Linked DNA regions of Homo sapiens. The protein of the gene in region 1 interacts with the protein of each later gene in a biochemical or structural test. Each region holds a gene or a part of one and is shown in the gene's direction. Other genes may lie near its edges. The genes, in order: KANSL1 and BAZ1B.

Region 1 (3,820 bases):
GGCCAGGTGTTTGGACTAACCTGTAGCATTTTATGTTTCTTGCAGATGTTCCCACAAGCCTGCATTTCCAGAGCATGCTGAAATCTCAGTGGCAGAACAAGCCTTTTGACAAAATCAAACCTCCCAAAAAGTTATCGCTTAAGCACAGAGCACCCATGCCGGGCAGTCTGCCAGATTCAGCTCGTAAGGACAGGCACAAATTGGTCAGCTCCTTCCTAACAACAGCCAGTAAGTGTCAGGGAGCCGGGAAGTCCCCCAGAGTATCAGTGACTTTTCATTCCTTTTATATTCTCAAATTTGTAGTTTGCATGCATGTTGGGGTTGGGAGAGGCAGTTGACCGATAAAAAATTCAGCTCACAGTGACTGCTTCTGCTTGTCTTGGATGCTCTCAGATGGACTTCGGGAGCTATTCTAGACACCATGGATCTTGGAGCAAGACCCAAAATGCTCAGTGAACAGCCAGCAATGGCATGGCATTGAGTTCATCTACGGGCAGGTGTCTTCTGTATCCTGGTGACATGTTTCTCTGGTTCTGGGCTCCCTGTGCCTATCCTAGCCATTGTGCAAATTACTAGAAACTTCAGTCCTGAAGGACTGTCCTGCTGCCCTGGGTATACGGCGTTGGCCTAGAGAGAACTCGAGAGCTTGGAACTCGAATAAGAAAATATTTGAGAGGACATATTTCACAGCTCTTTTTCTGTTCCCCTCTTCAGAGCTGTCCCATCACCAAACCCGGCCTGACAGGACCCACAGGCAGCACTTAGACGATGTGGGGGCCGTGCCCATGGTGGAGCGAGTGACAGCGCCAAAAGCAGAGCGCTTGCTCAACCCACCACCACCCGTGCATGACCCAAACCACAGCAAAATGAGATTGCGAGACCATTCATCTGAGAGAAGTGAAGGTAGGGCCAGGCCCATGGCACCTCTACCTGCAACTGCACCTGCTCAGGGCTTTCTGGGGCAGCCTAGGCTTCTCTTAATTACCCCCAGCTTTGTCCTTCACTTTCTAGGAAAGCAGAGTAGAGGGACGCTACTGCTTCTAAATGGAGGTCACTTCTTAACTGCTACAGCAACCTCTGCCCTGCCCCTACTTCCCACAGCTAGTGTGCTTCACCTTTTTATCCTCTAGGCATAGAAAACATTTTTGCCTTTAGTATGTATTGCTGCCATTCCAAGCTTGTGTTAGAAGTAACGCTGGTTAAGATAGCCATGTATTTCTCTCTTTTCTGTTGACTTCTGCAGTGTTGAAGCATCACACAGACATGAGCAGTTCGAGCTACTTGGCAGCCACCCACCATCCTCCACACAGTCCCTTGGTGCGACAGCTCTCCACCTCCTCAGATTCCCCTGCACCCGCCAGCTCTAGCTCACAGGTTACAGCCAGCACATCGGTAAGTACCTGTGTGGGGTTGGCCGGACACCCCCTCTGCAGGTCACAGCTCACTCAAGTGGCTCCAGAGGACAGTGTGAGGGTGGGTTATAAAGCCCAGGGCATTTATAGGATCTCAGCTCATCATGACATATGTATGTATGTCTGTACCATTTTTAAGTCAAAGTCATGGTACTTGACCTTCTGTTGTTTTTCTTGAGTTGTTTTTCATAGCAGAGATGGATTTATGCTGAGCCATCCATAGAAAGCTTGATGCAGGGACAAACTCTTAAGGTGATCTGTGACTATTCAAGATCTGTTGGACTAAGTTTCACACAGGACTCAACAGTTCCGTGGCCCTAATCCTGTTGGCCCAAGAAGTGAACAAGAGAGGAGGGGTGGGTAGAGGGGAGATTCCCATGGGCGTTGGAAGCAGTGTTTGATTTCCTTGGTTTTACTCTCTGGGTGAGTGGAGGTGAAGTACTAAGAATAAACACTAGGCGTGAGGGTACCAGAAGAGAAGGGAAGGGAGAAGGCAGAGTCCATGCTTTTTAGGTATACAGAGCAGAATTACAGATCCAGCAGGCCCCCATGGCAGGACATTTGGCATGCACACACCAGATTTTACGATACCACACTCCATCTGGAAGCAGTTTGCACAGCTATTCCAGACACATTTCCTTTAATTTCATTCTAATATTTTAATTCCTCAAGTGTGCCCTCTTGGAACATACATACCTGTAGCTGCTATGGACCTACTCAAAGGGTCCTTTTTGTATAATAATTACAATGTAATGTAATGGTAAATGTAAAAGTCTGCAACTGTAATGTTTATTGAACACTTACTACATACCAGTGATCAGTGATTTACATGTGTTACATGTTATAATGCCTTTTGAGATGTAGGTTGGTACTGTGGATTTCATTTTATATGCATGAAAACTGTCAAGGCAACTTGTGAGGGTTATAATTATGATTCAAACTCAGGCAGCCTGACTGTAGAGCCAGCTCTTTTACCATTACACTACACAGGCTAAGCCTGGGTGAGGGTATTGCAGAGGCAACTTAGGAAGTTCCTTCAGAGCCTAGATCAGGAAACTTCCAAGCTCATAAAATGGACTCACTAGGCTCCTGTGATCAGGTAGGAATTCACATTGTTCTCTCTTTGCTGTTACAAATCAATCTTTTCCAAATGGTCTCTTTGCTCTTCGACTTTCTTTACCCCCGTAACCCACAAATTTTATCTAAATAGGTGTGTAGTGTCCCTCACATACTCAGTTATCCAGCAGCAAAGGGTTTCAGATAACCAAAGTATTTATAAAAAAGAGTCTAAACTAATTCTGATAGAAAATCTGAACTCAGAGATTCAGGACTTGGTGAGCACTTCAATATTTCTGTGTCTGGAGAATGTTAACTTAGGCCTGGATCACTTGAAATTTTTACCATTTATTGAGTAAAAATTTTGTGTATAGCACTATGCTAACCCCTGAGGCTCTCTCATTGCCAAGTTTTTTCAAAGACTCTGGATTTATGTAAAAGAAGATAGGCCAGGCACAGTGGCGCTCACCTATAATCCCAGCACTTGGGGAGGCGGCTGAGGCGGGTGGATCACTTGAGGTCAGGAGTTCGAGACCATCCTGGCCAATAAGGTGAAACCCTATCCCTACTAAAAATACAAAAATTAACTGGGCGTGGTGGCATGTGCCTATAGTTCCAGCTACTCTGAGGCAGGAGAATCACTTGAACTGGGAAGCGGAGGTTCCAGTGAGCGGAGATCAAGCCATTGCACTCAAGCCTGGGCGTCGCAGCAAGACTTCGTCTCAAAAAAAAAAAAAGAAAGAAGATAGGCCAGATAACAGCAGGCTCTCAGTATCTGCAGTATCTGCAGTGGGGATTGGTTCCAGGACCTCCCATAGATAGCAAAAGCTATTGTTGCTCATGTCCCTAATATAAAATGGCATAGTATTTGCATATAACCTATGTGTATGCTTTAAATCCCATATACTTTAAATCATCTCCAGATTACTGATAATACCTAATGCAATGTAAATGCTATAAAAATAGTATGCTGTATTGTTTAGAGAATAATGAAAAGAAAAATCTGTACCTTTTCAGTACAGACACAATTTTTTTCCCCCAAATATTTTCAATCCACAATTGGTTGAACCCATGGATACAAAGGGCCAGCTCTCCTTGAAATCAAGTAAAGAAGCCAGAGGACACTGGAGAAAGGTAGGGAGGAGAGCGAGTGTTTTTGTCAGTGCTTCCCAAAAGCCAGTAGCTGCATCAGAATCACCTCAGCAGCTTTAAAAAACAAAACCAACCAACCAGACACTTCTAAAGATCTGATTTGTTGCTGGCTGTGATATTGCATGCCTGTAGCTCCAGCTACTCAGGAAGATCTCTTCAGCCCAGGAGATTGAGTCCAGCCTGGACAACATAGTGAGACC
Region 2 (3,820 bases), on another chromosome or scaffold:
GGCTGACACCTGGTATGGTTGTTCATGCCAGCACTTTGGGAGGCTGAGGCAGGTGAATTGCTTGAGCCCAGGAATTTGAGGTCAGCCTGGACAACAGTGAATGAAACCCTGTCTCTACAAAAAAAATAGAAAAATTAGCTGGACATGCTGGCGTTTGCCTGTGGTCCCAATTACTTGGGAGGCTGAGGTGGGAGGATCACTTGAGTCCAGGAGGCAAAGGTTGCAGTGAAGCGAGATGGTGCTATTGCACTCCAGCTTGGGTGACAGAGCAAGACCCTGCTTCAAAAAAAAAAAAAAAAAAAAAAAAGGAACAAGGCTGGAGGGGCAGACCCTGTGTGTGACATGTCTTGCTTGCTAGTTTGCTAGTGGCACAAAGAAAGAGCTAGAAGACATCATGACTTTAAGCCTCTTCCGGGAAGTGACATATATTACATCTGCTCACATCTATTGGTCGAAACCAGTCACGGGGTCAAGCTTGATGTTAATGAAGAGGGGAGGTACATTCCTCTTCAGGGACCTTGTAGACAAGCCACATGGCAGTGGGTGGAGATGTAAAAATCCTCTTATGGAAAGGAGGTGAATAGTTAGAAACTAATACAATCTATCATATTTGAAGGTTCAATGAATGTTTTCTGGGAAAAGTTATTTTTGAGATCTAAAGGATGATTAGAATTTAGACGAATAATAGAGGACTGTATATTCTTGGCAGAGAAGGTGTGATGAGTTCGTCGTGATTGTGTGAGTTTGGAGGTTTTTTGTTTTTTTTTGAGACAGATTCTCACTCTGTCATCCAGGGTGGAGTACAGCGGTGTGATCTTGGCTCACTGCAACCTCCGCCTTCCTCATTCAAGCAGTTCTCTGCCTCAGCCTCCCGAGTAGCTGGGATTACAGGCGCCCGCCACCATGCGTGGCTAGTTTTTTAGTAGAGACAGGGTTTCACCATCTTGGCCAGGCTGGTCTTGAACTCCTAACCTCGTGATCCACCCACTTCAGCCTCCCAAAGTGCTGGGATTACAGGCGTGACCCACCATGCCCGGGCTAATCTTCTTTTTTTAGACAGTCTCCCTCTGTTGCTCTCCATCACAGCTCACTGCAACCTCCACCTCCTGGGCTCAAGTGATCCTCCCACCTCAGATCCCTGAGTAGCTGGAACTACAGGCCTGTGCCACCACATTCAACTAATTTTTTTTTAATAGAGATGGGGTTTTGCTATGTTGCCCAGGCTGCTCTTGAACTCCTGGGCTTGAGCGATGTTCGTGCCTGGGCCTCATAAACTGCCACTATGCAGTTTTTTTTTTTTTTTTTGAGACTGAGTTTCACTCTTGTTGCCCAGGCTACAGTGCAATGGCATGATCTCAGCTCACTGCGACCTCCGTCTCCAAGGTTCAAGCAGTTCTCCTGCATCAGCCTCCCGAGTAGCTGGGATTACAGCCGCACGCCACCACGCCTGGCTAATTTTTTGTATTTTTAGTAGAGACGGGGGTTTCACCATGTTGGCCACGCTGGTCTCGAACTCCTGACCTCAGGTGATCCACCTGCCTTGGCCTCCCAAAATGCCAGGATTATAGGCATGAGCCACTGTGCCTGGCCGGCCCCTACTTTTTTTTGTTTTGTTTTTTTCTGGCCCCTGCTTTTTAAAGTAACAACTCTAGGTTGAACATCCCAAATCCATAAATCAGAAATGCTCCAAAATCTGAAAGTTTTTGAGCCCCAACATGATCGTCAAAGGAAGAGCTCATTGGAGCATTTTGGATATTTGGATTTGGGATGCTGAACTAGTAAGTATAATGCAAATACTCCAAAATCTGAAAGAAATTCAAAATCCAAAATACTCCCGGTTCTAAGCATTTTGGATAAGGGATCCTCAACCTGTAATAATAAAAACTTACTGTTCTCTCTTTAAGACATATTTGTTAATGTATTTCTCTTACATTCTCTCTGATGACACAGTGAGTTTTTTTTTTTCTTTTAATAGTTTTTTGTAAAGTCGCTATGTTCAGGCTGGTTTTGAACCCCTGGGCTCAAGATCCCCCCACTTTGTCCTCCCAAATGCTGGGATTGCATGTGTAAGCTACCATGCCTGTTGGAGCTTCTTAAATATGGCTAAATAATGTGTTAGAATGTTATCAAGCTTTTTGAAAGCTTAAATAAGTCCACTTACTGATTCCTCCTCTGTCCTTATTTTACTACCCATCCCTTCCACTCCCCTAGTTCAGTAGACAAAAATAAGACAAATCCGTCTTGGGATAATGTCCTCTGGAAGCCGTTCCGTTGCTCTTCTCTGGGTATAAGTTTGAAAATTTTTCGGTGATTGGATTTACATATCTGTATATGGAAGTCTGACTCAGGTTTTTACTCAAACATTCTATATATTTTGTTTAATCACTTAGATATTAGCACCACCCCTGTAAGGAAAATGGATTTATTACTCAGTTTTAGCAGATCTGGGGAAAGATCCACAATGAGCAAAGGTGCTTATACTATTGCATAAAGTTACTATTTTGGATTACCTGTGGGTTTGTTCTTGTTTGCGTTTTTGCTGATCATAACCTTGGAAAACCAAGCATCTATATTTATTAAACATGCGGCTGGGCGTGGTGGCTCACACCTGTAATCCCATAACTTTGGGAGATTGAGGCAGGAGGACTGTTTGAGCCCAGGAGTTCAAGACCAACCTGGGCAATGTGGTGAGACCCTGACTCTGCAAAGATAAAAAATGTAGGTGGGCATGGTGGTGTGCACCTGTAGTCCTAGCTACTCAGGAGGCTGAGGCCCAGGATTGCTTGACCCCAGGAGGTCAAGGCTACAGTGAGCCATGATCCCACCACTGCACTTCAGCCTGGGTGACAGAGTGAGACCCTGTGTCAAAAATAAATACATAAATAGATAAAAATGAGCTAGATGCTGCAGTGTAAGTCTGTAATCCCAGCTATTCAGGAGGCTAAGGTAGGAGGATCTCTTGAGCTCAGGAGATACAGGCCAGCCTTGTTTCCAAAAAACAAAAATTAGAATATTTGTTTATTTGTTAGATAGTATTGTAGAGGAAACTGTTTAAATACTTTTATTTCAACCACTATAAAATGTGTCACTTGGAATATACAGGTATTGTTCACTAACTTTCTACTTATGTCAGTTGATTTTCTTACATAGCATCTGTTGCTGTGCTTAAAAGTAAATTAGTTACTTGCCGTTTGAATTTGGAAGTGGCTGGCTGATGGTGAATTCCAGTTGGTTTTGTGTGGAAAGTTGCCATATTTACACTACCAACTTGATGTTTTTCTTTCCCTCGTCTCCCTCACGAAGACTGTCTAAACGGCTAGTAAATGATCTTCTGAATCTCAGTATTATTGGAGACATCATAGAGACTGGATAAATATTATATCAAAAGTACTTTCCGGAATACTTCTAAGTATTTTATGAAATTTATTTTTTAAACCAGGGTAGCCAATCTTTTGGCCATATTGGAAGAAGAATTGTCTCGGGCCACACATAAAATACACTAACACTAAAAACAGTTGATCAGCTAAAAAAAAAAAAAATCACACAAAAAACTCATAATGTTTTAAGAAACTTTATGAACTTGTGTTGGGCTGTGTTCAAAGCCGTCCTGGGCCGCAGGTTGGACAAAGGTTGGACAAGCTTGTAAACCCTAAGAAGTAACATGTTTCCAAGGTGGACTGGAGGGCTGTGGGTAAATGGATCATTAATGTATGCTCAAGGTTATTCCAAACTGCCTGTGAGACTGTGGCCTAGTCACCTCATTTTACTGTAGACTGATTCCTTTTTTTTTTTTTTTTTTTTTTTTTTTTTGAGGTGGAGT

The links.
Region 2: the proteins of KANSL1 (region 1) and BAZ1B form a complex in vitro, tested with the Homo sapiens proteins (one study listed by BioGRID).

The regions. Positions count from the first base shown.
Region 1 is NC_000017.11:46,036,110-46,039,929, reverse strand, and holds part of KANSL1 (KAT8 regulatory NSL complex subunit 1), read left to right. Parts: intron 1-45; coding exon 46-228; intron 229-714; coding exon 715-903; intron 904-1,243; coding exon 1,244-1,392; intron 1,393-3,820. UniProt on the Homo sapiens protein: Non-catalytic component of the NSL histone acetyltransferase complex, a multiprotein complex that mediates histone H4 acetylation at 'Lys-5'- and 'Lys-8' (H4K5ac and H4K8ac) at transcription start sites and promotes transcription initiation.
Region 2 is NC_000007.14:73,512,019-73,515,838, reverse strand, and holds part of BAZ1B (tyrosine-protein kinase BAZ1B), read left to right. Parts: intron 1-3,820. UniProt on the Homo sapiens protein: Atypical tyrosine-protein kinase that plays a central role in chromatin remodeling and acts as a transcription regulator. Involved in DNA damage response by phosphorylating 'Tyr-142' of histone H2AX (H2AXY142ph).